4 linked regions of the Homo sapiens genome follow. The protein of the gene in region 4 interacts with the protein of the main gene of each other region in a pairwise test. Each region holds a gene or a part of one and is shown on either strand. Other genes may lie near its edges.

Region 1 (7,994 bases), on a different chromosome or scaffold from region 4:
AGAAGAAATAAATTGTGGTATATTTATACAATGGAATACAAAAAAAAAAAGAGGAAAATTTTCATTCTGCTTTATATTAATATACATATTAAAGCCTCAACTATATTTTCAGTAATAGGGTCTAATAACGCATCCTTACTCAAAAGTATGTCTGAGGATCTATGCTGAGGAGTTGGCAGTGCTTCATTCAAAACACTAAAAACAATTTGTTTTCAAATTATATTACTATAGGATACATTCGTTTCTTTAAGATTTTTAACAATTCATCTAACTAGCAAAAACTCAGTCATACAAGTGAAATCTGTAAAATGTTGCTAAATCCATAAATTTTAAAAGCACAACCACTTACGAACCATTTTGTTTTCTTAATATGTTAAGATAAATTTACTAGGGAGTAGAAAATATATGAATGGTCCATTGAGAGTCACTTGGCTAATATACCATTTTCCACCCACAGCATCTTTTCCCCCCAGCAACCAGTAGCAAAGATGTCCAAATCCCACTGAGGACAGGGTATGAGTGCATGCTTTACACAGGCTTGAAAATCCAAGTCTAATCCTCTTTTGGTTACCTCAAGCTTAAGACCTAGACAAATCCCTACCTGTAGAACTCAGTTATCCATCTACAAGCCAAGGAGGGTGGCAAGTCGCGTCTGGCCCTGTGCGTTACTACTCCGGGTTTCTTCACTGCCCTCCTTCAGCAGCTCCCCAAGCCCTGAAACTTCCCATTCCCTCTCCTTTTGAGAGGGAATTTACTTTTAGCAGCTGCATCTGCAACTTTTATCTACTACTCACTGCAATGGCTTACTTCTCCTTTTGGCCTCTAGTAAGAGGGTTGAGGGTTTAGGGCTGTCCATATTATTAATAGCGAATTCATGACAGAAAGAGCAGATGGAAGAAGCTTTTCTCTGCACCATGTCTTGATCCCTCCACAGATGTCATTTTGCTGCTTTTTCACATCTGTTGACCTTTGGATTTCTGGTCTACTCAAATTTTGAGTGCTATGAAAAATGAACTCTTGTATTCCTTCTGTATTCCACCAGATTTAAACTCAGGTATTTTTGGATCATCCATTCCTGAATCTGGCTTAACATGATACACACCTTGCCCCACTCATACTAGATGACCTAACAACCTAAGTGACACTCACTCTCACAGAGCCTGGCATGAAGTAGGAGCCCAAAAATACTTACTGAATGAATGAATGCTAATGGCTATGTTTTAAACACTTCCAGGTAATATTTTGGACTGTAAAAATCCCTTCTGAATACAAAAACTTTAGCCAGTTACTCTAAAATTAAAAGACAGATGAAATCGATGATTTAGGGCATTCCATGGGTCATTCATGTGATCATCACTGCACTGAGAGATGTATCTGAAAAAAGGGGCAAAATGCACCATCACTACTATTATTCAACATAGCACTGGAAGTCCTAGCTAGAGCAATCAGGCAAGAGAAAGATATAATGGGCATCCAAATTTCAAAGTAAGAAGTCAAATTATCCTTGTTTGCAGATGACACGATCTTATATTTGGAAAAATCTAGACTCCACAAGAAAAGTCTTAGAACTGCAAAACAAATTCAGTAAAGTTGCAGGATACAAAATCAACATACAAAAACCAATAGCATTTCTATATGCTTACACTGAACAACGTGAAAAAGAAATTTAAAAAGTTATCCCATTTACAATAGCCATAAATAAAATTACCTAGGAATTAACCAAAGAAGTGAAAGATCTCTACAATGAAAACCATAAAACACTGATGAAAGAAATTGAAGAGGACATCAAAAAATTGAAACATATTCCATGTTCTTGGATTGGAAGAATCAATATTATTAAAACTTCTATACTACCCAAAGCAATCTACAGACAAAACGCAATCCCTATGAAAATACCAATAACATTCTTCACAGAAACAGAAAAAACAGTTGCTCATGCCTATAATCCCAGAACTTTGGGAGGCCAAGGTGGGTGGATCACTTGAGACTAGGAGTTCGACACCAGCCTGGGCAACATAGGGAAACCCCGTCTCTATTAAAAATACAAAAATTAGCTGAGGGTGGCAGTACACACCTGTGGTCCCAGCTACTTGGGAGGCTGAGGCAGGAGAACTGCTTGAACCTAACCTGGGAGGCAGAGGTTGCGGGGAGCTGAGATCCTGTAACTGCATTCCACCTTGGGCAACATACACTCCAGGCTGGACAACTGAGTGAGACCCTGTCTCAAAATAAAATGAAATAAAAGAAAATAAGAAAAGAAAAGAAAAAACAATCCTAAAATTTGTATGGAACCACAAAAGATTCAGAATAGCCAAAGCTATTCTAAGCAAAAATAACAAATCTGGAGGAATCACATTACCTAACTTCGAATTATACTACAGAGCTATAGTACCTCAAACAGCATGGTACTGGCATAAAAACAGACACATAAACCAATGAAAAAGAATAGAGAACCCAGAAACAAATCTACACACTTACAGTGAACTCGTTTTTGACAAAGGAGCCAAGAACATGCACTGGGGAAAAGACAGTCTCTTCAATATATGATGCTGGGAAAACTGGATATCCATATGCAAAAGAATGAAAATAGACCCTATCTTTCATCATATGCAAAAATCAAATCAAAATAGATCCAAGACTTAAATCTAAGACCTCAAACTATGAAACTACTACAAGAAACATTGGGGAAAAATCTCTAGGACATTGGACTGGGCAAAGATTTCTTGAGCAATACCCTATAAGCACGGGCAACCAAAGCAAAAATGGACAAATGGGATCATATCAAGTTAAAAAGCTTCTGCACAGCAAAAGATACAATCAACAAAGTGAAGAGACAACCCACAGAATGGGAGAAAATATTTGCAAACTATCCCTCTGAAAAGAGATTAATAACCAGAATATATAAGGAGCTCAAACAACTCCATAAGAAAAAAATCCAATATTCCAATCAAAAAATGGACAAAAGATTTCAACAGACATTTCTCAAAAGAACACATACAAATGGCAAACAGGCATATGAAAAGGTGCCCAACATCACAGATCATCAGAGAAATGCAGATCAAAACTACAGTGAGATATCATTTCACCCCAGTTAAAATTGCTTATATCTAAAAGACAGGCAATAACAAATCTTGGTGAGGATGCAGAGAAAAGGGAACCCTTGTACACTGTTTGTGGGAATGTAATACAACCACTATGGAGAACAGTTTGGAGGTTCCTCAAAAAACTAAAAATAGAGCTACCATAAGATCCAGCAATCCCACTGCTGAGTATAGGCCCAAAAGAAAGGAAATCAGTATATTGAAGAGATAGCTAAACTCCTATGTTTGTTGTAGTGCTGTTTACAACAGCTAAGATTTGGAAGCAACCTAAGTGTCCATCAACAGATGAATGGATAAAGAAAATGTGGTACACATGCACAATGGAGTATTATTCAGCTATAACAAAGAATGAAATCCAGTCATTTATAACACTATGGATGGAACTGGAGGTCATTATGTTAAGTGAAATAAGCCAGGCACAGAAAGACAAACATTGCATGTTCTCACTAGTTTGTGGGATCTAAAAATCAAAACAATTGAACTCATGGAGATAGAGAAGGATGGTTACCAGAGGCTGGGAAGGATAGTGGGGGGTTGGGGGTGGAGGTGGGGACAGTTAATGGGTACCAAAAAAAAAAAAAAGAATGAATGAATAAGACCTACTATTTGATAGCACAACAGGATGACTATAGTCAATAATTACAGGCGTGTGCCACCATGCCCGGCTAATTTTTGTATTTTTAGTAGAGTTGGGTTTCACCATGTTGGCCAGACCAGTCTTGAACTCCTGACCTCAGGTAATACACCCACCTCAGCCTCCCAAAGTGCTGGAATTACAGACATGAGCCACTGCGCCCGGCCAATTTTTTTATTTTTTGTGGAAATAAGGTCCCACTATGTTGCCCAGGCTGGTCTCAAACTCCTGGCCTCAAGTGATCAAAGTGCTGGGATTATAGGTGTGAGCCACTGTGCCCAGCCAAATAACAGCAATTCTTAATGTTTACACTCTTAGAAGTATCAGAAGCACTGAAAATATAACTGAGGAATTATAGTAACATTATAAATATATAATAGCTCTTGTTCTAAGAGCTGTAGCTCTAGGGAGGGAGACTATTTAGTATATTTTTGCTTTAGAGGTAAGGAATGTCTTGGTTTGTGAAACTAAAAGCATCTGCCAAGCTTCTGATTATATAACACTATAGATCATCTCCAGAGGATCACTCTTGGGTACTCCCATACAAATCTTCCCTCTGTGTAAGTGCACAGTAGTGGGTAGTCTATCAGGGCACAGACTCAGAGTATCCTACGATGGAAAACCACAATGAAAAGGGATACAGAGGCAACCACAGTACCAGATTGAGTAGATTGAGTACAGTAAAGACCAGGGGTCTGAAAACCGAGGGTCACCATGGGTCTGGGTCAGGAAGTGCCTTATAAGTCCAGGTGATCAGACCCCAGTGATCAGAATACCAGGCAAGGAAACAGACAATAAAGAAGAGAGTAGAGAGGGCCGGGCATGGTGGCTCATGCCTGTAATCCTAATACTTTGGGTAGCTGAGGTGAGTGGATCACTTGAGTCCAAGAGTTCAAAACCACCCTGCGCAACATGACGAAACCCCCATCTCTACAAAAAATACAAAAAAATTAGCTGGGCACAGTGGCGCGTGCCTATAGTCTCAGCTACTTGAGAGGCTGAGGTGGGAGGATCACTTTGGGCTCAGGAGGTGGAGGTTGTAGTCATGATCATGCCACTGCACTCCAGCCTGGATGACAGAGCAAGACCCTGTCTCAAAAAATGACAACCGAAAAACCCCCCAGGGAACCCAAGCACACATGCAGCACAGGTAGAGACTACAGCAGCAGGGGGAAAGCCCAACTTTACCAAAGATTCCTTGGCACAGGGGCTTTTGAAGAACTTCCTGCCAACAGCAAGGGTGAGGTTAATACCTAAAGTTCAGTAACATAATCTCCTTTGTTACTTCCATTCTAATTGAGAAGCAAGCACAGAACATTAGAACATAGTTCTCAAGCACACACTGTATTATTCAATGATATGTAATATATTGCCAAGACTTAAAGTTACAACTACTCTGTATATCCTCTTAAGACTAATTTACTTTAAATTAGCATTCTTAAATCTATTTTAATGTACCAACTTTGGATTCTGTTTGTGTGTTTTCTGATTTCATTACCTGAATTGCTGGTCTAGCTTTTCAGCCACAAAATCCTGCCTCTCTTTTTCATTCTTCTCTTTTAGTAATTTAGTTTTCTCTCTCATCCTATCTTTTTTCTCCTCAATGGTTTCTTTCTTCAATTGCATTTCTGTAAAATACTCATTTTCTTCTAATGCTAAAAGCTCACGTAGCCTGAAACAAAAAGCCAAAAAAAAAAAAAAAAAAAGAAAACTGTCATGCTACATGCATCGTTATATTCAATTTCAGAACTATAGGTCTAATTTGTAAGAAAAGAAAGATCACTGCAGTCTTCCACAGAATAAGACTGGTTGGTTTGTTTTTTTGTTTTTGTTTTTGTTTTTGTTTTGAGACAGGATCTCGCTCTGTCACCCAGGCTGGAGTGCAGTGTGATCATGGCTCACTGCAGCCTTGACCTCCTGGGCTCAGGTGATCCTCCCACCTCAGCCTCCTTGAACAGCTGGGACTACAGGCAGGTGCCCCTATGCCCAGCTGTTTTTTTATTTTTTGTAGAGATGGGGTCTCACTGTGTTGCCCAGGCTGGTCTCAAACTCCTGGGCTCAAACAATCCTCCCACCTCAGCCTCCCAAAGTGGTAGGATTATAGGTATGACCCACTAAGCCCAACCAACTGCACCATATTTTATTTGATCACATACAAATAAGATACGAAATATATATTTTTAACAAAAGAGTAAAATGAACAGGTTTCAATCAAAATAATGAAATATGAAACAATATATTGTTTTTCATCAAAATACAGGCTATCACAAATAAAAATATTAAAAATATTAACCAGCAATAGCTATGGATTTAATATAAACATCTCAGCCATGATCCTTGCTAAATTTGATTTTTGACTGGTCAATCTCAAATTGTGGTTTTAGGAATATTTCATGGTTTATGTCCCAGGTTTGTGAGCCTTACTTATTTCGTCTTTCTTCAATGTTAATGATAAACCCTTGCACAGCATCCTTGATTCTTGCTCGCACAAGGCTGTCCAAAATCTTGCAGTCATTGTGCTGGTCCCACTCAGCTTTCAAGCGATCCCGCTCACTTGACTTAATGGAAGCCAAAATAGCATTATGCTTCTGATGGCTGCGTCGGATTCTTTCTAGATGGTGCTCAGCTCCTTGGCCTTTAGGAGGCTTGGATCTCTGAAAACAAAAACCAACTATCACTTATAATAAGCCAAAGAATCAACTGCATATTTTCAATTAGTTATGCTCTCAATCAATACTCATACTAAATAAAATTGGGTATAAAAAACTAATACATCCTACTACAACTGAATACAGCTTATGCACCTAAAGAGTAACTTGTTTCATTCTCTGAGCCTATACCTAAGATGTCATCAAAACAGTCTCAAATATTTCTAATGTGCCATTTGAAAAATAGTTGATGGAAATTACAAAGTTAAAAATGTGAACAGGACTCTGTTGAGATTGTCTAGTCAAACCCAGAGACATTAAGTGATTTGCTGAACTTGCTTCAAATAGGGCAGATAAAACAAGAATTAGAGGTCTTCTAATTCCCGACCTTGACATTGCCACTCATTATTCCACATTATTTCTCACGGTTGGACACCATAGTTATCACATCAAAATACTTTCAATGAAAAGGTGCTACTATGCGAATATATAGAAAAAATATACATGTGTGTATATACATGTATATGTGTGTGTGTATATATATGTGTATATGTATATGGATATATAACGAGTTGTGATAATGAAAGATCTTTGACTAAGAAGGAAGAAATGAAGTGAGGGAGGAAGAGAGGAGGGAAAAGAAAAAAAGCTGGTGGTAGAACTTTATTCCTATTTCTATGGTGCCCAGAAGTTTTAATGCAAAGAGTGTGTTCCTGACCTTTTGGGCTACTTTGAATTTCTATAAATGTACTGTTTTTACAGAAATGTCCACTAAAAAAGTTAGAAATGCATGTACCATTTGAATATATATAGATACACTTAATGAAATCACATAGCCTATATCTTTTTCCTTTCTGTATTCCTAGCATTGAACATAATGCCTACTACAGTGAGGTCCTCAATAGAAATGAATGAATGAATGAGTGAATGAATGAAACAATGTTGCTGGGTGGGCTTGATGCAATTTCTGCACCTCCTGGAGCCACCATAAAATCCATAGTCTTGAGCTTTGTATTTTCAGGAACAGTTTTATCAAGTCATCCTTAGGTAAGTTGTGAGATACTGGGGTGCTGATTCACAGAAACAAAACTCTTAAGAGACAGAGAGTCAATCTGATCTTTTACATTTAGAATATCACCATCAGGATTACCAGAATACTAGGGTTAGGTGTTTGTAATGAAGTCTCCTGAGGAAAGAAAATCAACATTTGAAGACAGTTTAATGAAAAGATTCAGGGCTCAGGGTACACATATAGGTACCTAGATTTAGCTGAACAAGATAAGGCAAGCCTGGGGTGGTAAGGAGACAGAAGATGATGCTGGGGGTTATATCATGGAAAGTAGCTAATCCATGTCATAATTATCTGGAGCCTAGAGCCAGCTAATTAGATGACTGTTCTCCAATACAGTTGGCATTTTATGAATATAGATCTGTGAAAATAAAGCAGAGGAGGATCACAGTGGCACCCTTGGCAGCATACACAGCAGGAATTAAGGGTCCCAGTGTGAGCTGAGAACAGGAATGAAACACCAAGTAAATCTAGAAACACTGGCTCCAGTTGTCAGGACAGGAAACAGGGCTGAGGGATATTTTGGCTGAAGAGGTGACAAA
Region 2 (7,994 bases), on a different chromosome or scaffold from region 4:
GATCTACAAGGCCTTGGTTCCATCTCCCACCCTCCTGTATGAGATGACCCATCTGGCATGTGTGGCCTGTGGCCCCGAACACTAAACGCAGCTAGGAATGGAAGGATATCGGTTCTGCAGGAGCCAGGCCACGCCCAGAGTGTAGTACAGCTTGACCAGAGCTTCCAGGATTTCCTCTTTCTCCTTATTTGAGGTCGTATTTGCCTTCCAGGTCAACAGTGTATTCTTGGCTGATGTAGCATGTTTCTTGGCCTGAACTGGGAGGCCTGGGGGAGTTAGAGGGTGAGGAGCAAGAAGACAGACATTAAAAAGGCATGCTTCAGTCAAAAACATTCCTGGGAGGGGATAAAGTGGGCAGTGCAGTTGTCGTATGGTCTATAGCATTGGTTCCTAAATCTGGCTGTGAATCAGAATTATTGGAAATGCTTGTAAAGAATACAGGTTCCTGGGCCCCACTCAAGACCTACTGAGTGGGGAATCTCTAGAGAATTGGGGTCCAGGAATCTCTAATTTTAATCTGCACCACAAGTGGTTCTTATTCAGCCCTCTCAACATTAGCCTTCGTACCTCAGTTTGGAACTCAAGACAGAGACAGGAATGGAAGGTGAGTATCCTATTCCTGATTCTACTACTAATGCCATGTGACCTTTTCAACCCACAACGCTTCTCCATCCTCCAACTGTTGAACAACAATAATAATTATAGAAGCTGACCCTTACCAAACACACAGAGATAGTCCAGGACCAAAGTAGGTTATGCCATAGAATGCTGTGCATTGAGTGTTCTGGAAAAGGCATTCTATAAATACAAGGGCTTATGAATGCAATTACTTCCATCTGGGGATTTTTTTTTTCAATCTAAGATGAATCTGGTGATACTAACTGGTCACACAACACACATAAAAAGAAAGCAATTGCTAAATGCAGGGAGGCCCCAAACTAAGAAGACAAAGGCAAGGCCAGACCCCAGCTAGACAGAACTGGTGGGGTTTTTCCCCTTGTTTTTTCTTTTCTTTTCTTTTTAAAGATTTAAAAATACAAACCTGTGTCCAGGGCTGACTTTCCATAGACTGCAGTGAGGGAGCTGCTCTGCTACATACAAAACCCTAACCCAGAAGCAGGTTATCTAATGATTTAGCACCAGGTTCCCCTCAAATATGCATTGCATGAAGGGTGAAAGGGCATCCCCCTTTCCAGCCACATCTCATTTGTCCCCTTGTTTTTTGCTGGTGTTCCTGGGCACTTACTCAAGCTGCTATTTGTCCAGTCAACAGAGGTAGACTTGGGAAGACTGAAAACAACAGGTAGGGTTCACTTTCAGCCCTCTCTCTGCAGGTACCTAGGGGCTGGTAAACACATTCACCCCTGCCAAGTAGGCCACTGTGCCCCTAATCCTCACTTCACACCACCAGCCCCAGTCCTACTCAGCAAGCTGCCTTTGGCTCCTGAAGCCTAGTTTCACAGAATGGGTGCAAGTCAATGGCAATAAGGATAAATTTAAAAGTTTGTCTTTGATACCTGCAGCCCTCATGTGTTCTAAGTGCACCTCCTGAATGAGTTATAGCAATGAAAGGGAACATGGTCTTCCCTGGGAGAGTTCTAAAGGTGACCCAGGTCCCTTCTCCCTTTTGCAACCATTATATAAGCAGCAGTCGTCAAAATAAAGTTCAGTTCTTTTGTGACTTCTGACCAAAGCAAGAACCATAAAAAAGCATTTCAAATGCACCTTTCCAAATTCACAAGATTATGTCTTCCCTCTTTCCAAAGAGCTGAGACAAAAGTACAATGCTTGATCCATGCCCCCCAAATAGGATGATGAAGTTCAGATTGTGCAAGGACACTATAAAGGTCAGCAAACTGGCAAAGTAATCCAGGTTTACCAGAAGAAATACAGCATCTGGCTGGGCGTGGTGGCTCACGCCTGTAATCCCAGCACTTTGGGAGGCCAAGGTGGGCGAATCACAAGGTCAGGAGATTGAGACTACCCTGGCCAACATGGTGAAACCCCATCTCTACTAAAAATACAAAAATTAGTTGGGCATGGTGGTGTGCACCTGAAGTCCCAGCTACTAGAGAGGCTGAGGCAGGGGAATCACTTGAACCTGGGAGGCAGAGGCTGCAGTGAGCTGAGATCGCACCACTGCACTCCAGCCTGGCGACAGAGTGAGACTGTTTCAAAAAAAAAAGGGCATCTATACTGACAGGGTGCAGTGGGAAAAGGCTAACGGCACAACTATCCATGTGGGCATTGACCCCAACAAGGCAGCTATCACTAGGCTAAAACTGGAAAAGAACAGAAAAAGATCCTTGAGCAGAAAGCCAAATCTCACCTAGTAGGAAAGAAAAATAGTAGATATGAGGAAGAAACATTCGAGAAGATGTAGGGGGAAAGTATCCCTATATACACCTTTCATTAAAAACTGCAAAAATAAAAATAAATAAAAGTGATCCAGAGACAAGAAGTCTCTGCAGAATACTCAGAAATATCTGTTCCATAGGTTTCAACTAAAGAGAAAAATGGACTCTGGAGAGGGCTGTGTCCTAAGTTAAGGGTGGCCTTCAAATTGCACTGTGCATTATAAGCACCCTATTAAAATGCAGATTCCTGTCCCACACTTCCAGTAGTTACAGCTCACAAGTTCTGGAATAAGAACCAAGAATACACATTTAAAACAAGCAACCATGTTTCAGGTGGTAACCAAGGATTCCCATTTGTAAGAACTAATCTTGGTAATAATGCAAGGTTGTCTGAGGACCACACTTGGAGAAATACATAGTTAGTAAAATCTTTATCGAAGAAGTAGGACTCATCTTGTTTTTCAAGAGTGGATAGGATTTTGACTGATACAAGGAGGGATTTCCCCTTGGATTAAATAGCTTGAGGCCTTGAAGACAGAACAAGCAAGTGTGTGTATGTATGTGTGCTGCACTGGGGGATGAGGTTGGGTGGATACAGGATGGTTAGGGAAGGTAGAAAGATGACTGAAGGGAAACTCTGAATTGAAAAACGTATAAGCAGCCCGGGCACAGTGGCTCACGCCTGTAATCCCAGCACTTTGGGAGGCCGAGGCGGGCGGATCACGAGGTCAGGAGATCAAGACCATCCTGGCTAACACAGTGAAACCCTGTCTCTACTAAAAAAAAATACAAAAAATTAGCCAGGCGTGGTGGCGGGCGCCTGTAGTCCCAGCTACTCTGGAGGTTGAGGCAGGAAAATGGCATGAACCTGGGTGGCAGAGCTTGCAGTGAGCCGAGATCACGCTACTGCACTCCAGCCTGGACAACAGAGTGAGATTCCGTCTCAAAAAAAAAAAAAAAAAAAAAGAAGAAGAAAAGAAAAGAAAAGAAAAAAAAGAAAAACGTATAAGCTATGCATTGAATATGTAAAAAATCTTGGATGATGTCTTAATTTGTATGTCAGGTATAAAATACCTGAGACCAGGTAATTTATAAAGAACAGAAATTTCTCACAGTTCTGGAGGCTGAAAAGTCTAAGATGAAGACGCCAGCTTCTTGTGAGGGACCTCTTGCTGCATCCACATATGATGAAAAACGGAAGAGAAAAAGAACCAAACACCACAAAAAGCCTCTTTTATAACGGCCTTAATCCCATTCATGAGGGAGGGGCCCTCATAGCCTAATCACCTCTGAAAGGCCCCACCTCTTGATGCTATCACAGTGGCAACACCTGAACTTTGGAGTGGACATGCTCGAACCATAGCAGATGCCCAGATGAGGAGGGGGAATTAGATCTGTTATGTAACAGGGAGTCTTCACAGGTCTGGAGGAAGAAGGCAGCATCACTAGTTAGGTCACAGAAAACTCTGCTTCGGATACTGGAAGCCGAGATGGCTACTTTAGACCAAGAAAACAAAGTAGAAAACTGAGAAAGTGTTTTGATCAAGCAGGTCATTTTCCACAAGTAGGTGGGCCGTTAGGAGTGTGTCATTAAGGACTATAAAAACCAAATTCAGACAGTTCCCTGGGTCCTTAGGAAGAAGAAAGGTGAAACTGCAGGAGCTACTAAAAACCACCCCAAATGAGCGGACACTCCTTCTGGGCTTGTGAATGTCAAATAAAACAACTACCACTCAAGAAAGTTGTTCTGAGGCAGTCCCTGAGGCTTTTGAAAGCCTGCACCCTCCCTGCAAAATATCCCATGCTGGTTGTGCAATTCCCAGGAGGAATACTTTTCCTCTCTGCTCAGCAGCTAATCAATCATAGAGTTCCTTGCTTTCACACGACTAGGCCCCACATTGTGGGCCTTCTGATGGAAAAGCTGAGCCACAAGGGGCTTAAGCAAACTGAACAAGGATCTTGATTTAAAACAATTTATTATATTTTAAGCCCTAAAGGGAAAAAACTTCTTTCACCTTCCCAGAATCCTCTCTGATCTCCAAAGTGGAGTGCATGAACTCTACAGGTATGCAAGATGCCGTAAGAGTGTGAGGGGGAAATCAAAACTTCTCTATTTTTTTTTTATCTGAAGCCTTTTTCTATTTTTATTACTATTTATAATATTACATAACACATCAATACTGTTGTACACAATCTATTTAAAATACATGTATAAAAAGTAATTGATTGTTTGCTTAAGTTTCTTTTAGTGATAAGGGAGCTGTCTCTTGAGTTTGGAGACCACTGGCCTAGACAAATGTTTTCCAACCTTTTCAAGTATGAAAGAGCTCTTTTTATATTTTAAAAAAACCACAAGGCTTCCTCCACTTGTGATAATTATTTTCATAGCACATACTACTTGAAAAAATTCATAATGACAAAAGTACTATGAATTCAGTATCAGCAACACTTTGAAATGAATTTACATTTACTAAGTCTAAGTACGTCCTCTTTCATGTAAAAACTCTCTGTATATAAGATTTATTATTGTATATATCTATGAAGGATGCTTCATAGATCAAGTTACTTTTCTGTATCTGCCCTCCCAAGCCAAGGATACCACCCTTCTACCTGCACTGACAGTGCAGCAGTTTTCAAGGTACAAGGCAGAGGGGCAGCAAGGCCTGCTTCTGGAGCCCAAGATTCAGAAATTACAAGGAAATATTGATGAGATGGCAAAATGAGTCCAAAGATTGTCCAACAAACATATCAATCATTTTGCTTTAGTTTGGGTTGGGATTCTATCATCGATTCTGCTACACTGACTCAGGCCAGAGAAAATCTGCTCAGAGCTACCCAATCTTTGGAGGTTGTTATTGTCACCAGAAAGCAGTCACCTTTGATCAGCATCTATATTTAAGCAGTTACTGTGGCACGGTAATTAAAAGAGCAGGGTCTAGAGCCAGACTTTCCAGGTATAAATCCTTGTTTAGTCATTATGACTTGAACATCCTTATGACTTGAAAAAGTTACTTTATCTGTGCCTGTTTATTCACCTACAAAATGGTAATGAAAATATATCCTGTAGAGTTGTCGCAAGGATTAATTTAATATAAAAAAAGGATTAAATAGTACCTGAATGAAGTGAGTTTGAAGATATATTAGCCATTATTATTATTATTACCAAGGTCCATTTCTCTTATTGAGTAATTTACTATATTTGTACTTATTTTCAACATTTTTCATAGCACTGTTTACAGAATCTTTGTAAAAGGCTTGCATTCTCAAATGCAGACTCACTTCAGGTAGGTATCAGGCTTCTTGTGGGTCAGATTACCCGGTTTTTATCATTCCCTGTTGTTTCTGTACCAGTTTTTGTGTCTTTGTTTTAACCAACTAGACAAAGAAAGCATGACTTAGGCTTCTTTTTCTGGATTTTGCAACATTTGTAACAGAGCCCCAGTACCTGGAAGATTCCCAGTAATAATAGGCTGACTAAAGTACTGTTTCATTAATAAGCAGAATTTCAGAAAACTGCTTGTCCACGTTACCATATTTTCCTTCCTGAACACTTGAAAACAGTTCACCACTAGTTACCAAACTACCATGGTGATCTCCGACTGCCCTTTCTCAGCTGCTGGATCACTAGGCTCATTAGGATCATCACCAGGGCAGTGGGCCATAGAGGTCCACTTCTAGTGTCACTTGTTCTGTTTAACAAGCGAACCAACTTTTATACACTCTGCTTTGCAAAAGCCTCACATTCTCTTGTGAATCCCATTCCATCAATTACTCCATTAAAAACATCTTTAAACCCTCTCTTCTAACTGGCTCCTTCCTCTTTGCCTAAAATCTTCCTGCATCTCCTTCTCTTGTAAAATCATCTTCACTAGCCTCCGGTCCCTATTGCTTCCCTTCATCCCTGGGATCTGGCTTCTCCTCCAACCACTATGGGGAAACTGTTCTTCTGAGGTCCCCTCAAAAACATCCTAATAAATGAATCCAACTGCAGTTTTTCAGTCCGCATTTCACTGCAGCATCAGATACCCTTACCTGTTTGGCTCCCAAGGCACTGCACCAACCTGCTTCTCCTTTATAAACCTTCTGTAATTGATTCTTTGCTAACTCTTTATCAAGGTCCTTTGTTCTCTACCATTAATGTGTCCATTTTCCAAATCTTTCTGTTTCTTCCACTTCTCTCTTTCCCTCTTGGAAGTTTTATCAACTCCTATTACTTCAACCTTGGCTTCCATGCTTATAATTTACCATTTCCCCTCTTTAGTTCTGGTCTCAAACATTCCTCCATGCTTATGCCTTTCCTTCTCTCCTCCCAAGTTCTGGTCCCAAATTTCCAGCACAAGTGAAAATGTATTACAGGTTGAGTATCCCTTATCCAAAATGCTTGGGACCAGAAGTGTTTCAGATTTCAGATTTTGTTCTGGATGGGGGGAGGTTTTTGGATTATTTGCAGATAACCAGTTGAACATCTCTGAAATCTGAAAATCTGAAATCCAAAATGTTCCAGTGAGCATTTCCTTTAAGCGTCACATCAGCATTCAAAAAGTTTTAGATTTTGGAACATTTTGGATTTCAGATTTTCAGATTAGCGATTCTCAACTTGTGGATTCTCTATTGCAATTCAAAATCTATACATCAAAAACTGGACTCAGCATTCCTCTCCCAGTCCACTTCCTTTCTGACCTACTTCTCTCTGAAAATGGCAATTTCAGGGGCCCAAAACATCATGGTCATCTTTGGGCCTCACTGTCACTCAACCCCAAATCGAACACCATGTCCTGCCTACTCCTTCTTAATGGTCTCTGTCTTTTAATAATCATTTTTGAATAGGTAACACATTTCTATCGTTGAAAAGTTAAAAATTATAAGAAAAAGTAAACACTGAGAGGTCTCACTTCCAATCTTGTTCCCTTTGTCCCCAACCACCCTCTAAGTAACTTTTTTTGTTTCATTCTTGTGTACCCTTTGGTGTTTTTTATATAAAAATAAGCCTACATTCTCATTTCTTACTCCCTCTTACACAAAAAGAGGCGTATTATAAACACCATACTGCATTGTGCATTCTCTTTTCCCTAAAGAGATCTTTCCCTAGAAGGATATAGAGATTCCTCATGTTCTTTTTAAAACTCCATATATCCCACTGTGTGTATGTACTAGTTTCCTATTGATGGATACTTGCTTGTTTCCAATCTTTTCCTATCATGAATGATGCTGCAAAGAATAATCTTGTCCATGTTATCAGTGTGTATTTAGGAAAGATTCCCAGAAGTGGGTTTCTGGTTTAAAAATAAGTGTATCTGTCGTTCGTAGACTCTTGAATCCTTACCTTCTCACCCATTCTCTCTGGCAGCCTAGTTTTAGACCTAGATGACTGAGATGGCTTCCATTCCATCACTGCTAGATTAACCCTGCCAAAAGTACACTTTGATATTTTTATCATCCTGCTGGAAAATCTCCACTAGTGCTCTTTGCCTATCAAATAAATTACAAATTCCTTAGCCTGTATTTAAAACCACACCATGGCCTGCCCAATGTACCCTTCTCCTTTCCAGGTTTATCTTACCAGTCCTAACCTTAGCCTGCCCAATGTACCCTTCTCCTTTCCAGGTTCATCTTACCAGTCCTAACCTTAGCCTGCCC
Region 3 (7,842 bases), on a different chromosome or scaffold from region 4:
TCAGGATTCCTGGGGAGGAATCAGAACACCTGTTTGGAACCAAAAGCTGATTCTCAGCTAGAGCCTCAGTAAATGGCAACTTGCAGAAGTGCTCTTTGCTTTACAGAGGAAGATGAAGCCCAGAGACACGATGTGACCTGTGTGGAGGTGTGGAGTGAGGCAGCCGTGGAGCTGCAGTGCCTTACCTCAGAGCCTGCGGGCACTGGACCTGCACCATCCCCCTGTCCTTGTCTTGGAAGAAACTCTCCAGGTCCTCCTCATCTTCAGAGAGGTTTTCATCACTCTCTGGGTCAGACTGAAAGAGAGACTCCAACAGACACCATCTCCCTTTCTGCTTCAGTTCCTGTAAGTTCTGGTAAATGCTCCCAGTTGAGTCAGAAGTAGAATCTATCTCCTCCTCTGGGCTGAGGAACTCGTCAAGTTTGCTGGCCCTGGGCAAAACCAGCCCATCCCCGGACAGCTCCTCTCCTGCCTCTGTGTCTGCGAAGGACTCGGGGGGAAATATCTAAAATAGAATAGAAATAGGCTGTGGGTCAAACAATAATTTCAAAGGTATTCAAATCATAACTTAATTTCGCTTTGAATAAGCTTCTGTATATTAGGGACTGGGGAGAATTTGGGGTCTGCCAGATGCACTGGCTCACACCTGTAATCCCAACACTTTGGGAGGAATTTTTAAAAATAAGGTGTGTTTCTTGGTCTAAAGAAATTTCACAACTTGGTCTATGAAGTGCGCTTGGTTGAAGGGATGGAGAGGGAAGTGAAGAGCTGAAGTTGGTTCCCTATGCCATACAGTGCAGTAAGCTTTTACAGAGTACCTCACCTACACCAGGCTTTCTGACCCCTGCACTCCAGGAATCCTGCCCATGATGATGGCCACACTCTCCCTTACTTGGGTTTTAACCTACTTCTTGCTCATCTTCCTTCTCTCCCTTCCCTTATTTCTACTCCTCTGCTTTCCTCATGTTCTAGCTAATTTGCACTCTGTCAAGGAATGGATGATGGCTGGGTGCAGTGGCTCATGCCTGTAATCCCAGCATTTTGGGAGGCCGAGGGAGGTGGATCACCTGAGGTCAGGAGTTCAAGACCAGCTTGACCAACATGGTGAAATCCCGTCTCTACAAAAATACAAAAATTAGTTGGGCGTGGTGGCGGGTGCCTGTAATCTCAGCTACTGGGGAGGCTGAGGCAGGAGAATCGCTTGAACCCGGGAGGCGGAGGTGGCAGTGAGATGAGATTGCGCCACTGCACTCCAGCCTGGGCAACAAGAGTGATGCTCCGTCTCAAAAAAAAAAAAAAAAAAAGGAATGGATGATTAACAAGACAGACAGTATGGTCTGGCTGGAAGAGCAATGTCTTAAGAAGTGGGACACACAATTAACTTTTTCAGTACTCCATTCATTCATAAAATATTTACTGGGTGCCTGATGTGCACTGGGCATTTGGCTGAGAACAAGACAAACAAGGTCCTTACTCTCATGAAGCTTACACTGTAGTAAGAGGAGACAGACAATATAAGATGATGATAAATTCTGTGAAAACCATAAACAACTGTGAGGTTATAAAAAGATGGAGTGCCTATGGAAAGCTTTTTGGTTGATAAAGTCCATCAGATTAAGGTTATTAGGAATGTACTTGTAATCAGTACATCAGTTAGGCTTATTAACTTGCTGCAGGACACTACGGAAAACCACAGGGAACTTAGGGTTGAGGGTGTGATTTTTATAGGGTTGGCTTCCCTGATTGATTCAGGGAACCAGGTATCAACTCTGGAATGGTGCTGTCATGAAGTGGGGACAATTTAGTTAAGCGAATGACTGAGCAATTTTTTTTTTTTGAGACAGGTTCTTGCTCTGTCACCCAGGTTCTGGAGTGCAGTGGTGCAATCATGCCTCACTGCAGCCTGAACCTCCTGAGCTCAGGTGATGATCCTCCCACCTCAGCCTCCCGAGTAGCTGGGACTACAGCACACACCATCACACCTGGCTAGTTTTTGTATTTTTTGTACAGATGGGGTTTCACCATGCTTCCCAGGCTGGTCTCCAACTCCTGAGCTCAAATGATCCGCCTGCCTTGGCCTCCCAAAGTGCTGGGATTACAGGCGTGAGCCATTGGGCCCCGCCCAACGGCAATACTTATTCAAAAGGTGAGAAGAATAAAGTAGGGTGGGTAAGTAATTGATCAGTAAGCCTTTTGGAAGAAGGGGTGTTAGTAATTTTGCACCTATGTTATGGCCCTGAGAGAAACACTGTTTCCTGATGCTCTTGCCGTTGGCATTATCTATGCCTATGACAGTCTGAGTTATACTTTCTCAGTCCTGGGCTGATTTTTATTTTTCATTGTGGAGGAATTTTGAATTGACACTTGATTGATGAGGAGCCAGGCTTACTAAAATCCAGGGTAAGAGTCAGAGATATGTATGCACCCTAGCCCTGGCTCTGCTACAGTGTGTGATCTTGGGCACGTTTTTTCTTTTCTTTTAAAGACAACTTTATTAAGACATAATTTCTATACAATATATTCACTCATTTAAAGTGTACAATTCAGTGGTTTTAGTATATACACAGAGTTGTGCAACTACCATCACAATTTTAGAACACCTTCATCGCCCTTAAAAGAAATGCCACACGCTTTAGTGGTCACTCCCTATTTCCCCTAACCCTCCACACCCCACCCCACCAGCCCTAAGCAACTGCCAATCTACTTTTTGCCTTTAATAGTTTGGGGTCCACCAGGTGCACTGGCTCACGCCTGTAATCCCAGCACTTTGGGAGGCCTTGGCTGGTGGATCACTGGAGGCACGCGCCACCACACCTGGCTAATTTTTTTTTTTTTTTGAGACGGAGTCTCGCTCTGTCGCCAGGCTAGAGTGCAGTGGTGCAATCTTGGCTCACTGCAACCTCCACCTCCCGGGTTCAAGTGATTCTCCTGCCTCAGCCTCCCGAGTAGCTAGGACTACAGGCGCGCACCACCATGCCCAGATAATTTTTTGTATTTTTTTGTTTGTTTGTTTTTGTTTTTGAGAGAGTTTTGCTCTTGTTGCCCAGGCTGGAGTGCAATGGCACAATCTCGGCTCACTGCAACCTCCACCTCCCAGGTTCAAGCAATTCTCTTGCCTCAGCCTCCCGAGTAGCTGGGATTACAGGCATGTGCCACCACGTCCAGCTAATTTTGTATTTTTTTTAGTAGAGACAGGGTTTCTCCATGTTGGTCAGGCTGGTCTTGAACTCCTGACCTCAGGTCCCAAAGTGCTGCATTACAGGAGTAAGCCACCGCACCCGGCCAATTTTTGTATTTTTAGTAGAGACGGGGTTTTGCCATGGAAACCAGCCTGGTCTCGATCTCTTGACCTCATGATCCGCTTTCCTTGGCCTCCCAAAGTGCTGGGATTACAGGCGTGAGCCAGCGCGCCTGGCCAATTTTTTTTTTTTTTTTAAATTTTTAGACGGAGTTTCACCATGTTGGCCAGGCTGGTCTCGAACTCCTGACCTCAGGTGATCCACCCGCCTCGGCCTCCCAAAGTGCTAGGATTACAGGCGTGAACCACCACGCCCGGCCAAATTTGGGGAGCAATTTTCTTAATCTCTTTGTGCCTCAGTTTTCTCTTCTACAAAAATGAGACGACAATTGTACTACTGGTCATAGAGTACTAAGAGGATAAGCGAAAACTGAGTGACATTGCCTATCAAGAGCCTCGTATAAAGTCCGAGAGGTTCAGGTCTGTAAGTCAGAGTCCGCCTCCTGGTCCCTAAACGCTCATTTTAATCCCACGCCCCTCCGTGACACGCCCCTGCTGTCTGTCTCCAAGGCAACGCCCAACAGTTTCCTCTCCGGGATTCCTTTCCCGGGGGCAGTCTCTTTTCTCTCCTCACCTGACGGCTCCCCTCCGCGCCTCCGGGGGCTCCCTCAGGCCTCCCCACGGTCATTTCAGCTGGACAGAGGCAGCAGCGACAGTGACAGCGATAGTGGCAGCAGCGGTGGCAGCGAGAGCTATGCGGGGCCAGGGTCCACCCCTTTCTAGCTTTGGCGTCTGGTTGGCTTCCAGGGCAGCCTCCGATCCATCCCGCCCGAGGAGGCAAGGTTCGTTTTCCGATTGGCCTATTTTCTCCGCGCATTTTATTTCCGGTTCTGAGGACGCCGCGGAAGCGGGACGGGATTGGAGTGCTCTGCTCCGGACGCACTACGTAGGTGGGCCTGCGGGAGTTCTGAGTGCGACGGCGCAGGTCTGCACCATGGCGGCCCGGCTTGTCAGCCGATGCGGGGCTGTGCGTGCAGCTCCCCACAGCGGCCCGCTGGTGTCCTGGCGCAGGTGGTCCGGCGCCTCAACAGACACCGTGTATGACGTGGTGGTGTCGGGTGGAGGCCTGGTGGGCGCTGCCATGGCCTGTGCCTTGGGTAAGCCCTTCTCCAGGCTACTAGTGGCCGGAAACCGGGCCGCGGAGGCACGATGAGAGCCGTGAGAGCCCTAGCACGACTTGCCCAAAGACAATTTCTCAGGTCTCGCGACGCTTCTCCCCTCCCCTCCTAGAGGAACCCCAGGGCACGCCGGAATGCGTGTGGTCCTTCAGGGTCCATTAGGGTCAAAAGTGGGAGGGGCGTTCAGAGTCTGTTCTACTCATGGGAAAACAGGCCTTCCCGGGGTTATTTATAAATGAGAGTTCCAGTTTCTCCAGATCCTGGACAGTACTTGTCATTGTCTTTTTGTTTATAGACATTCTAGTGGGTGTAAGTAAAGTGGGATCTCCAGGTTTTGACTTGTATTTCCCTAATGATTAATGATGTTGAATATCCTTTCATATGTTTATTGGTCATTTGTATATCTTCTTTAGAGAAATGCCTATTCAGACCCTTTGCCCGGTTTTTAATTGAGCAGTTTGTCTCTTGAATACTGTGGTAAGAGTTATTTTTATTTTTTGAGACAGGGTCTTCCGCTGTGCCCAGGCTGCAGTGCAGTGGCACGATCACGGCTCACTGTAGCCTCAACCTCCCTGGCTGAATTGATCCTCCTGCCTCTGCCTCCCAAATAGCTGGGACTGCAGGAATGCGCCACCACTCGGCTGATTTTTGTATTTTTTTGTAGAGACGAGGTCTCACTATGTTGCCCAGGCTGGTCTGGAACTTCTGGGCTCAAGCAATCCACCTGCCTCAGCCTCCCAAAGTGCTGGGATTACCGGCATAAGCAACCCTGCCTGGCCATTATTTTGTTTATTCTGTATAAGTCCCTTATCTGATAAATGACTTGCAAATATTTTCTTCCATTTTGTAGTCTTTTCACTTTTTTTTTTTTCCCTGAGATGGAGTTTCGCTCTTGTTGCCCAGGATGGAGTACAATGGCACGATCTCAGCTCACTGCAACCTCTGGGATTACAGGCTTGTGCCACCATGCCTGGCTAATTTTTGTATTTTTAGTAGAGACGGGGTTTCACCATATTGGCCAGGCTGGTCTCGAACTCCTGATCTCGTGATCCACCTGCCCCTTCCTCCCAAAGTGCTGGGATTACAGGCATGAATCACCATGCTTGGCCCATTATGAGATTTTTTTTTTGTGATTTTTTTTTTTTTTTTAGCTCATCAGCTATCATTAATATTAGTGTTTTTTTATATGTGACCCAAGACAATTCTTCCACTGTGGCCTGGGGAAGCCAAAAGATTGGACACCCTGATCTAAGGGCAGCTGTTCCACCCTATGATCCTCATCTCACAAGATACACAAAATTTAACTTAAAGCAGATCATAGACTTCTGTAACAGGGTGGTTCTCATGGCTGCTTGGGAGGCTGAGGCAGGAGAATCGCTTGAAACTGGAAGGGGGAGGTTGCAGTGAGCTGAGATCGCGCCACTGCACTCCAGCCTGGGCAACAAGAGCGAAACTCGATATCTCAAAAAAAAAAAAAAAAAAAAAAGAAGATAGTGCCCTTTACAGAGCATGCTCTACAGAGCATGTCCCTGTGCCCCATCCTCCACAGCAAAAGCTGCCAAGATGGACCGCTCACTGTCTGTATGGCTGGAGCTAACTTTTTTTTTTTTTTTTTTTTTTTTTGAGACAGAGTCTCTGCTCTGTCACCCAGGCTGGAGTGCAGTGGCAGGATCCCAGCTCACTGCAACCTCTGCCTCCCAGGTTCCAGTGATTCTCCTGCCTCAGCCTTCTGAGGAGCTGGGACCACAGGCGCCCGCCATCACACCTGGCTAATTTTTGTGTTTTTAGTAGAGATGGGGTTTCACCATGTTGCCCACGCTGGTCTTGAACTCCTGAGCTCAACTGATCCATCACCTCAGTCTCCCAAAGTGCTGGGATTATAGGTGTGACCCACTGTGCCTGACCTTTCTTTCTTTTCTTTTCTTTTTTGTAGTTTTTGAGACAGGGTTTTGCTCTGTCCCCCAGGTAGGACTGCAGTTGCACAAACATAGCTCAGGTGTGCCACCATGCCTGGCTAGTTAAAAAAAATTTTTTTTTGTAGAGACAGGGTCTCGCCATGTTGCCCAGGCTGGTCTTGAATTCCTAGGCTTGAGCAATCCTCCCACCTCGGCCTCCCAAAATGCTGAGATTACAGGCGTTAGCCACCATGCCTGGCTCACGTTTTCTTTTATAAACTCTAATTCTTTCTTTTTGAGACAGAATTTTGCTCTTGTTGCCCTGGCTGGAGTGCAGTGGTGCAATCTCCTCCTCCCAGGATCAAGCGATTCTCCTGCCTCAGCCTCCCAAGTAGCTGGGATTACAGGTGCCCGCCATCACACCTGGCTAATTTTTTTGTATTTTTAGTAGAGACGGGTTTCACCATGTTGGCTAGGCTGGTCTTGAACTCCTGACCTCAGGTGATCTGTCCACCTCGGCCTTCAAAGTGCTGGGATTACAGGTGTGAGCCACCGCACCGGCCTTTATAAACTCTAATTCTTTATTCTTGGTTTAATCTTGAGACTGCATTGAATTTTGCTTGTTTATTCCACTTTTTCTTTTGAACAGGAGTTGTAATTTTTAGTGACTTAATACTCTGGAGATTGAAAAGAACTGGTGTTTAAATACTGTAGTCTAACTTTTTTACTTCATTTTTCCTTTCTAGGGCATTCTGTTTGCTAGTTAGGTGTTTGCCATTATTTGCTTCTTGGCACGTGGCATGTAGTGGTCTTTGGAGAAGTCTTACAGTTGTGGGCAGGGTGGTTCTCATAGCTAAAATGGTGGTATATGTTATTGCTTAGGACTCTGCATGGGTATAGTGTTTATGTTCTCTGTAAGAAATTCATATTCTAAGGGTTAAGTGGTTACTCTGTTGTTTCTCTTGGTAATGGGAAAGGAAATTCTTGATTTTCCTAAGATGATATAAATTTTCTTTTTTTAAGGATATGATATTCACTTTCATGACAAGAAAATCCTGTTGCTCGAAGCAGGTCCAAAGAAAGTACTGGAGAAATTGTCAGAAACTTACAGCAACAGGGTCAGCTCCATTTCCCCTGGCTCTGCAACGCTTCTCAGTAGTGAGTAGAAGATCCTCCTTCAAAGATCCAATCTCCTTTCCCACTTAGCTTTCTAGTGTATCCCATGGGGCAGAGTCATCAGAGCATCTGACAAGGAGGGAGCTCACTGAGGTGGGTGGAGAGAGGGGGTGGGATTGGTAGTCTAGGGCAGAGTTGAAGATGTGGACCCCTGCAGTTGCTACTGCCTCAACTCCCTGTCTGAGGAATGCATCCTTGAGGCATGTGGGTCCATCATGTTGACTTCACTTGTGATGTTGTGTCATTATGAATTGGTGGAACTGAAATCATATGAACTAATCATGAACATTCACTTTGAATAGCAGGGCTCTCTTCATCCTGAGTCAAGCCTTCTAGCAAGCTAGGGAGCTTACAC
Region 4 (8,697 bases):
CTCACACCCAATGTTCTCTATTGTTGATAACAGTAAAAAATAAGAAACAATCCAAACAATTTGGGTGTAGCCAAATAATTTGTGGCACATTCTTTTTTTTTTTTTTTTTTTTTGAGACAGAGTCTCACTCTGTCGCCCGGGCTGGAGTGCAGTGGTGCGATGTCGGCTCACTGCAAGCTCCGCCTCCCAGGTTCACACCATTCTCCCGCCTCAGCCTCCCGAGTAGCTGGGACTACAGGCGCCTGCCACCACACCTGGGCAATTTTTTGTATTTTTAGTAGAGATGGGGTTTCACCGTGTTAGCCAGGATGGTCTCGATCTCCTGACCTTGTGATCTGCCCGCCTTGGCCTCCCAAAGTGCTGGGACGACAGGTGTGAGCCACCGTGCCCGGCCAGCACATTCTTATAATAAAATTGTGGGCCTAAGCCGGGCACGGTGGCTCATGCCTATAATCTCAGCACTTTCGGAGGCTGAGGCAGGTGGATCACTTGAGGTCAGGAGTTTGAGACCAGCCTGGCCAACATGATGAAACCCTGTCACTACTAAAAAATACAAAAATTAGCCAGGTGTGGTGGCACACGCCTGTAATCCCAGCTACTCAGAAGGCTGAGGCTTGAACCCAGCAGGCAGAGGTTGCAGTGAGCTGAGATTGTGCCACTGTATTCTAGCCTGGGCGACGGAGCAAGACTCTGTCTCAAAAAAAAACAAAAAACAAACAAACAAAAAAAACCAATTGTAGGCCAGGTACAGTGGCTCACACCTGTAATCCCAGCACTTTGGGAGGCCAAGGCAGGCAGATCACTTGACGCCAGGAGTTCGAGACCAGCCTGGCCAACATGGCAAAACCGCATTTCTACTAAAAATACAAAAATTAGCCCAGTATGTTGGCGTGCGCCTGTAATCTCAGCTACTCAGGAGGCTGAGGCATGCGAATTGCTTGAACCCAGGAGGCAGAGGTTGCAGTGAGCAGAAATTGCGCCACTGCACTCCAGCCTGGACAACAAAGTGAGACTATATCTCAAAAAATAAAAATAAAAATAAAAATAAAATTGTAAATAGCAATTAAAGACAGTGAGATAGCTGTATATGAACTAACCTGAAAGACTTCTGACATGCTTTAACACTGCGAAAGCAGGTTGCAGAATGATGTGTATGGTATTTCCCCCATATGATAAGACAAAGTGAAAATAAAAGAATAGGCCGGGCGTGGTGGCTCACGCCTGTCATCCCAGCACTTTGGGAGGCCGAGGCGGGCGGATCACGAGGTCAGGAGATGGAGACCACTCTGGCTAACACAGTGAAACCCCGTCTCTACTAAAAATACAAAAAATTAGCCTGGCATGGTGGCAGGAGCCTGTAGTCCCATCTATTCGTAGTCCCAGCTACTCAGAAGGCTGAGGCAGGACAATGGTGTGAACCCAGGAGGCAGAGCTTGCAGTGAGCCGAGATCGCACCACTGCACTCCAGCCTGGGCAACAGAGTCAGACTCCATCTCAAAAAAAAATAAAATAAAATAAAGTAATATATGTGTGTATTAAAAAAAAGAAAGAGGCCAGGTACGGTGGCTTATGCCTGTAATCCCAGCACTTTGGGAGGCCGAGTTGGGCAGATCACGAGGTCAAGAGATCGAGACTATCCTGGCCAACATGGTGAAACCCTGTTTCTACTAAAAATACAAAAATTAGTCGGGTGTGGTGGTGTGCGCCAGTTGTCCCAGATACTCAGGAGGCTGAGGCAGGATAATTGCTTGAACCCAGGAGGCAGAGGTTGCAGTGAGCTGAAATTGCACCACTGCTTTCTAGCCTGGGTGACAGAACAAGACCCCATCTCAAAGAAAAAAAAAATAGAAAAGAAAGAAAGAGATCTGGAAGGATACACCAAACTGTTCATAGTGGTTAAACCTGAAAAAGGGAATAGGATGACTGACTTGAATGAACTTGTCATTTTATAGGTTAAAAAAAGGTCAAATTGTGACAATTTCATATGGTACAATATAAAATTATATTAAATATACTCGAGATTTAATGAATTATTACAATGAGAATATATTCATGTATTACTTATGAACAAAATAAACAAAACACAGTTAAGAAGCAGCCCCCAGCATGCCTAAAATCTAGAGACATTTGAAGAAGGAGAAATAAGTCAAGTCCCCACTGATGCTAACTGCACTGGGCCTGAGCACATGGGCTGGACACAACAAGTTTAGGGGCCTGGCTCTCCCCTTCAGTTGCCTGCTAGACCTTGGCCCAGCTGCTTTACTTCTCGGGCTTTAACTGGGCACCTTACTCATGACCGCACTAATTCTCATAACACTACAGCTGGGAGCTGTCATCCATGTATTACAGATGAGGAAGGGTCTGGATTAGCTACCTTTTAAGTCAGATCTAATAATCCACAAACAGCTCAGCTGAGATCCTGGGATTCTGGGGCATCCGCGTGCACTTGAGATACAAGCTGTCCCACTGGCCCATGGCAACCTTCTTTCTAGTGAAACTCCCAGGGCGAGCGTGCTCCGCACACAGGAAGTGAAGGGGGAGCACCTGGCTTCCAATGATCACTCTGCGGCTCACCCACAGTGGGACCCCAGCATTTATCCCCCTTGGACTTCGGCTTCTTTCTTTGCACTGAGGAATAATAATAGTACCTGGCTCACAAGATGTTATAGTGTTTTAGTGTTTATAGGAAGCTGTGCACTTGATCCTCACAACGACCCTGGGAAGAGGATCGAGTAAGTAGAGCCTTCCCAGTCCACAGATACTGATACTAATCACTAATCATTGTGTAAAGGTTTTCCGTTTGCAACAGGCCATAAAATATATTATCTTACTTTAATTCTAAGAAAACAAGGGCGGAATCTCTGGTTTTCATCGGATTCTCAAAGATATACGTGTCCCCCAAGGAGTTCAGAGGTAGCCATGTTACGCAGATGCACGGCCCCCAGGGCTGTCGGACTCAAGTAACAGCTGTCAACAAACGTTCACACGCACGATCTCATGCAATCATCTTCACGGCGACCTACGGGGAGGAATTACCGCCCCAATTCACAACCGCGGAGACACACAGAGGAGGGCGGCCACCGCCCGGGGTCGCCCGGCCTCCGTCCCCTTCCCCAGGCCCTCCTGAAGCCTCTCTCCAGGCGAGGCCCGGACGTCCTACTCAGCTCGGGCCCCCGAGTGAACCCAGGCAGCGCTGGCCGGCGACGCCGGACTCGGAGACGTACCTGACGCGTCCCAGAAGCCGGGGTCCAAGCGCTCCCCGAACCCCCAGCAAGGACTCTGTAGCCCAGAGTTACCTTGACCCACCCGCCTCCTGCCGCCTGCCCGCCACGCGCATGCGCTGCCCCGCCCGGCCTCTACCACCGAGGAAAGGGGTAACCGGCGCGGGGGTTCCCAGCGCCAGCCTGCGCCAATCCCCAGAAACTCCGTGAATCACCTCGGGATAGCAAACGGATTATACAAAGGCAGTGTCTTCTGGGGTCCTTTTCATGCCTCTAGGACCAGGACCTGCATTCACCCTCTCCACTGACACATTGGTCTGGGCCCCCGGCCCGGCTGTCACCATAGAAACGGCATCTCGCGGACAACGCGGCGGCTCACGAAGGTTCCATTGTTATGCTAAACGGGAAAGTGGAGACCGCGCCGGCGTTGCCTAGAGAACGCCTGGACTCAGAGTAGCAAAATGGGCCTCTCCCCAACTCCCCTCCTCATCCCCCAGCACAAGGCAAAGGGCACCCCTTGCTGTGAGTTTGGGGGCACCGGCTGTCGGGGGCCGACCCAGAACTTTGCGGGGTCCCCTGAGGGACCCGTGGCGGGACCGGCCCCGGGTTCGTCAAATTCCGCCGATGCTTTCAGGTAAGACGGACGGACAGACGCACCATGACCCACCTCTGGCAGCCTGCCCCCTCCCCGTGCCGTTATGGCGGCTTCTACAAGCAAGGGAAGCTGAGGCCCAGGGACTACTTAAAGGTTGCATTGTGAGGAAGGGACAGAGAACTACTGGAGAATCAACTCCAGATCTCCTAGAGTCCTAAAAGCGTGTGTTATTGGTTCCGTCTGATAAGTGCAGAAACTTAGGCCGTTCAAGGAGTTTACCGGCTGCCTAGTGGGTGTATCAGGGCATCCAGTGAGGGGCAGGACCCAGGGGTCTTTGACTCCAAGCGCAGTTCTCTTCCAACTACACCACCCTGCATTAAAAGAGGGGAGACTTCCATGTCCTAGAACTAAAATCTTCACAATCTGGCTTAGCATTGTGCAATAGAAACATAAAGCAGGCCACATATGTGATTTGGAATTTTCTAGTAGCCACATTTTTTAAAAAGTAAAAAAGAAAGCCAAGTGAAATTAATTTGAGTAATGTTTTAAACTCCATATGTCCAAAACATTACTATTTCAAGATATAATCAGTATTTCTAAATTTGCACTGCTTCCATTTAAAAATTTAATTTTTTTTTTTTTTAAGACAGAGTCTCACTCTGTTGCCCAGGCTGGGATTGCAGTGGCATGATCTCGGCCTCCCGGGTTCAAGCGATTCTGCTGTGTTCACCTCCCAAGTAGCTGGAATTACAGGCACCCACCACCATGCCCGGCTAATTTTTTGTATTTTTAGTAGAGATGGCGTTTCACCATGTTGGCCAGGCTGGTCTCGAACTCCTGACCTCAGGTGATCTGCTTGACTCGGCCTCCCAAAGTGCTGGTATTACAGGTGCGGGCCACTGCGCCTGGCCAAAATTTGAATTAATTAAAATTAAAATTTTACTCTTGGCTGTTCTATCTATGGAGTAGCCATTCTTTTATTGCTTTACTTTAAAAAAATTTTACTTTTTTTTTTTTTCGAGACAGAGTCTCGCTCTGTCGCCCAGGCTGGAGTGCAGTGGCATGATCTTGGCTCACTGCAACCTCCGACTCCTGGGTTCACGCCATTCTCCTGCCTCCGCCTCCCAAGTAGCTGGGACTACAGGCGCCCGCCACCATGCCAGGCTAATTTTTTTTTTGGTATTTATTTATTTATTTATTTATTTATTTTAGATGGAGTCTCGCACTGTCGCCTAGGCTGGAGTGTGCAGTGGTACAATCTCAGCTCACTGCAAGCTCCGCCTCCTGGGTTCATGCCATTGTCCTGCCTCAGCCTCTCGAATAGCTGGGATTACAGGCGCCCGCCACCAAGCCCAGCTAATTTTTTTTTTTTTTTTTTTTTTTGGTATTTTTAGTAGAGATGGGGTTTCACCATGTTAGCCAGGGTGGTCTCGATCTCCTGACCTCATGATCCGCCTGCCTCGGCCTCCCAAAGTGCTGGGATTACAGGCGTGAGCCACCGCGCCCAGCCTTTTGTTTATTTTTTTGAGACAGGGTCTCATTCTGTCACCCAGGCTGGAGTGCAGTGACATCATCCCCACCTCCCAAAGTATTGGGATTACAGGTATGAGCCACTGCATTCAGCCTTAAAATTTTACTTATTCAGTCACATTAACCAAATTCCAAGGACTTAATTGTCACATGTAGCTAGTGCTATTTTGATGGCCAGCACAGTCTGGGCACTTCCTACCTTTCCAGCCTCACTTCCCGCTGCTTGGATGGTACATTTTGGATGGCATATTATTTCCGCTCCCCATTTTTTCTTTTTTTTTGAGACCGAGTTTTGCTCTTGTTGCCCAGGCTGGAGTGCAGTGGCGCGATCCGGCTCACTGCAAGCTCCGCCTCCTGGGTTCAAGCAATTCTCCTGCCTCAGCCTCCAGAGTAGCTGGGACAACAGGCGCCTGCCATCACACCCGGCTAGTTTTTTGTATTTTTAGTGGAGACGGGGTTTCACCGTGTTAGCCAGGATGGTCTGGATCTCCTGACCTCGTCATCCGCCTGCCTCGGCCTCCTAAAGTGGTGGGATTACAGGTGTGAGCCACCGCGCCCGGCCCTGCTCCCCTTTATCTAATTAACTTGTGCTCCTCCTTTAGCACCTTGATCTCCTTGTATGGTCAAAACACACTATTATGTCATCTTACAGTGTTGTTCCCTTTGAAGTAGTGATGACAGTTATAACTCATAATTATGATTTACGTAATTGACTCATTGTCCTGTCTCCTCCAGTAGATGTAAGCCCCTTGAGGGCAGGGACCAAGTCTGGTTTAGTTCACTTTCCTGTCCCGAGTATGAGCATGCTGCTTGCTTATGGTAGGTACTCAGTAAATAATCATTTCATCCACAGTCCTCAACCTTTTTGGCTTCAGGAACCAGTTTCATGGAAGACAATTTTTACACAGACCTGGGATGGGGGGGATGGTTTTGGGATGATTCAAGAGCATTACAGGCCGGGTGCGGTGGCTCATGCCTGTAATCCCAGCACTTTGGGAGGCTGAGACAGGCAGATCACGAGGTCAGGAGTTTGAGACCAGCCTGACCAACATGGTGAAACCCCATCTCTACTAAAAATACAAAAATTAGCCAGGCATGGTGGCGTGCACCTGTAATCCCAGCTACTTGAGAGGCCGAGGCAGGAGAATCACTTGAACCCAGGAGGCGGAGTTTGCACTGAGCCAAGATTGTGCCATTGCATTCCAGCCTGGGCAACAAGAGTGAAACTCTGTCTCAAAAAAAAAAAAAAAAGCATTACATTCATTGTGCACTTTATTTCTACTGTTATTACATTGTAACATATAATAAAATAATTCTACAACTCACCATAATGTAGAATCAGTGGGAGCCCTGAGCTTGTTTTCCTGGAACTAGACAGTCTATCTGGGAGTGCTGAGAGACAGTGACAGATCATCAGGCATTAGATTCTCATAAGGAGCACACAACCTAGGTCTCTTGCATGCACAGTTCATAATAGGGTTTGCACTCCTATGAGAATCTAATGTTGAAGCTCATCTGACAGAAGGCAGAGCTCAGGCAGTCATGTGAGGAATGGGGAGTGGCTGTAAATACAGACAAGCTTCTCTCACTCACCTGCCACTCACTTCCTGCTGTGTGGCCTGGTTCCTAACAGGCCACAGACCTACACCCATCCATGGCCCTGGGGTTGGGGACCCCTGATTGTATGACTGAGGGTTATACTAAAAAGTCTGTCAGATGCTAAAGTCAGCATTTTTTTTTTTTTTTTTTTTTGAGATGGAGTCTTGCTCTGTCACCCAGGCTGGAGTGAAGTGGTGTGATCTCGGCTCACTGCAAGCCCCGCCTCCCAGGTTCACGCCATTCTCCTGCCTCAGCCTCCCTGGTAGCTGGGACTACAGGAGCCCGCCACCACGCCAGGCTAATTTTTAGTAGAGACGGAGTTTCACCATGTTAGCCAGAATGGTCTCGATCTCCTGACCTCGTGATCCACCTGCCTCGGCTTCCCAAAGTGCTGGGATTATAGGCGTAAGCCACCACGCCCGACCTTTTTTTTTTTTTTCTTGAGATGGAGTCTCGCTCTGTCGCCCAGGCTGGAGTGCAGTGGCGTGATCTCGGCTCACTGCAAGCTCCGCCTCCTGGGTTCACGCCATTCTCCTGCCTCTGTCTCCCAAGTAGCTGGGACTGTAGGTGCCCGCCACCATGCCCGGCTAATTTTTTGTATTTTTTAGTAGAAACGGGGTTTCACCATGTTAGCCAGATGGTCTCGATCTCCTGACCTCATGATCTGCCTGCCTCGGCCTCCCAAAGTGCTGGGATTACAGGTGTGAGCCACTGCGCCTGGCCTAAAGTCAGCGTTGTTTTTATATGCTCAAATATATTAACTTTTTTGTTATTTTAATTTTTCTTTTTTTCATATCGCCTCTTCTGAGAAGCATCAAATATGTTAACTTTATTTATTTATTTTGAGACAGGGTCTTACTCTGTCTTTCAGGCTGGAATGCAGTGGCATGATCTCAGCTCACTGCAACCTCCACCTCCCAGGTTCAAGCGATTCTCCTGCCTCAGCCTCCCTAGTAGCTGGGATTACAGGGGCCTGCCACCATGCCCAGCTAATTTTTGTATTTTAGTAGAGATGGCGTTTCACCACGTTGGCCAGGCTGGTCTCGAACTCTTGACCTCATGATTCGCCTGCCTCGGCCTCCCAAAGTGCTGGGATTACAGGCGTGACCCACCACGCCCAGCCCAAATATGTTAACTTTAAACAGGGCATTTGAATCTTGACTGCCAGAATGTGTGCTCCATGAGGGCAGAAGGTTTCTTACTCTTCCACTCTTCTGCCCTGCCCCCAGCACATCATATTGCTTGCCACAGGGTAGATATTTAAGGAAGCTAGTTTTCTTCCCTCTCCTTTTATCCTCCCCAAGTAATGGCAGTAAAAACTTACCATGTTTCAGAGAATACCTAAAATGGTATGAAATATTCAGAAGGGGCTGGGAGTGGTGGTTCACGCCTGTAATCCCAGCACTTTGAGAGGCCAAGGTGGGTGGATCACCTGAGGTCAGGAGTTCGAGACCAGCCTGGCCAAAATGGTGAAACCCCATCTCTACTAAAAATACAAAAATTAGGCAGTTGTGGGTGGCAGGTACCTGTAGTCGCAGCTACACGGGAGGCTTGAATCCAGGATGTCAAGGCTGCAGTGAGTGAGCCAAGATCGCGCCACTGCACTCCAGTCTGGACGACAGAGCAAGACGCTGTCTCAAAACAAACAAACAAACAAACAAAAAACCATGGTAAGTCTAAAAGGAATCACAGTTAATCCATAATTTGCCTAGTGGAGAAAGCAGTAGAAGCAAATCATTCCAGTTCACTATT

The links.
Region 1: the proteins of CBY1 (region 4) and CFAP53 interact in binary tests that used the Homo sapiens proteins (3 or more experiments, as listed by UniProt).
Region 2: the proteins of CBY1 (region 4) and TTC23L interact in binary tests that used the Homo sapiens proteins (3 or more experiments, as listed by UniProt).
Region 3: the proteins of CBY1 (region 4) and FAM161B interact in binary tests that used the Homo sapiens proteins (3 or more experiments, as listed by UniProt).

The regions. Positions count from the first base shown.
Region 1 is NC_000018.10:50,255,831-50,263,824, forward strand, and holds part of CFAP53 (cilia- and flagella-associated protein 53), read right to left. Parts: intron 6,390-7,994; coding exon 6,160-6,389; intron 5,408-6,159; coding exon 5,234-5,407; intron 2,247-5,233; exon of another isoform or gene 2,075-2,246; intron 1,375-2,074; exon of another isoform or gene 1-1,374. UniProt on the Homo sapiens protein: Microtubule inner protein (MIP) part of the dynein-decorated doublet microtubules (DMTs) in cilia axoneme, which is required for motile cilia beating.
Region 2 is NC_000005.10:34,855,170-34,863,163, reverse strand, and holds part of TTC23L (tetratricopeptide repeat protein 23-like), read right to left. Parts: intron 267-7,994; coding exon 110-266; intron 1-109.
Region 3 is NC_000014.9:73,946,101-73,953,942, forward strand, and holds the start of FAM161B (protein FAM161B), read right to left. Parts: upstream 3,993-7,842; 5' UTR 3,927-3,992; coding exon 3,873-3,926; exon of another isoform or gene 3,818-3,872; intron 506-3,817; coding exon 186-505; intron 1-185. Other genes in the region: COQ6 (ubiquinone biosynthesis monooxygenase COQ6, mitochondrial), read left to right, coding at 4,233-4,395, 7,335-7,469.
Region 4 is NC_000022.11:38,651,278-38,659,974, reverse strand, and holds the start of CBY1 (protein chibby homolog 1), read right to left. Parts: upstream 3,338-8,697; 5' UTR 3,225-3,337; intron 1-3,224. UniProt on the Homo sapiens protein: Inhibits the Wnt/Wingless pathway by binding to CTNNB1/beta-catenin and inhibiting beta-catenin-mediated transcriptional activation through competition with TCF/LEF transcription factors.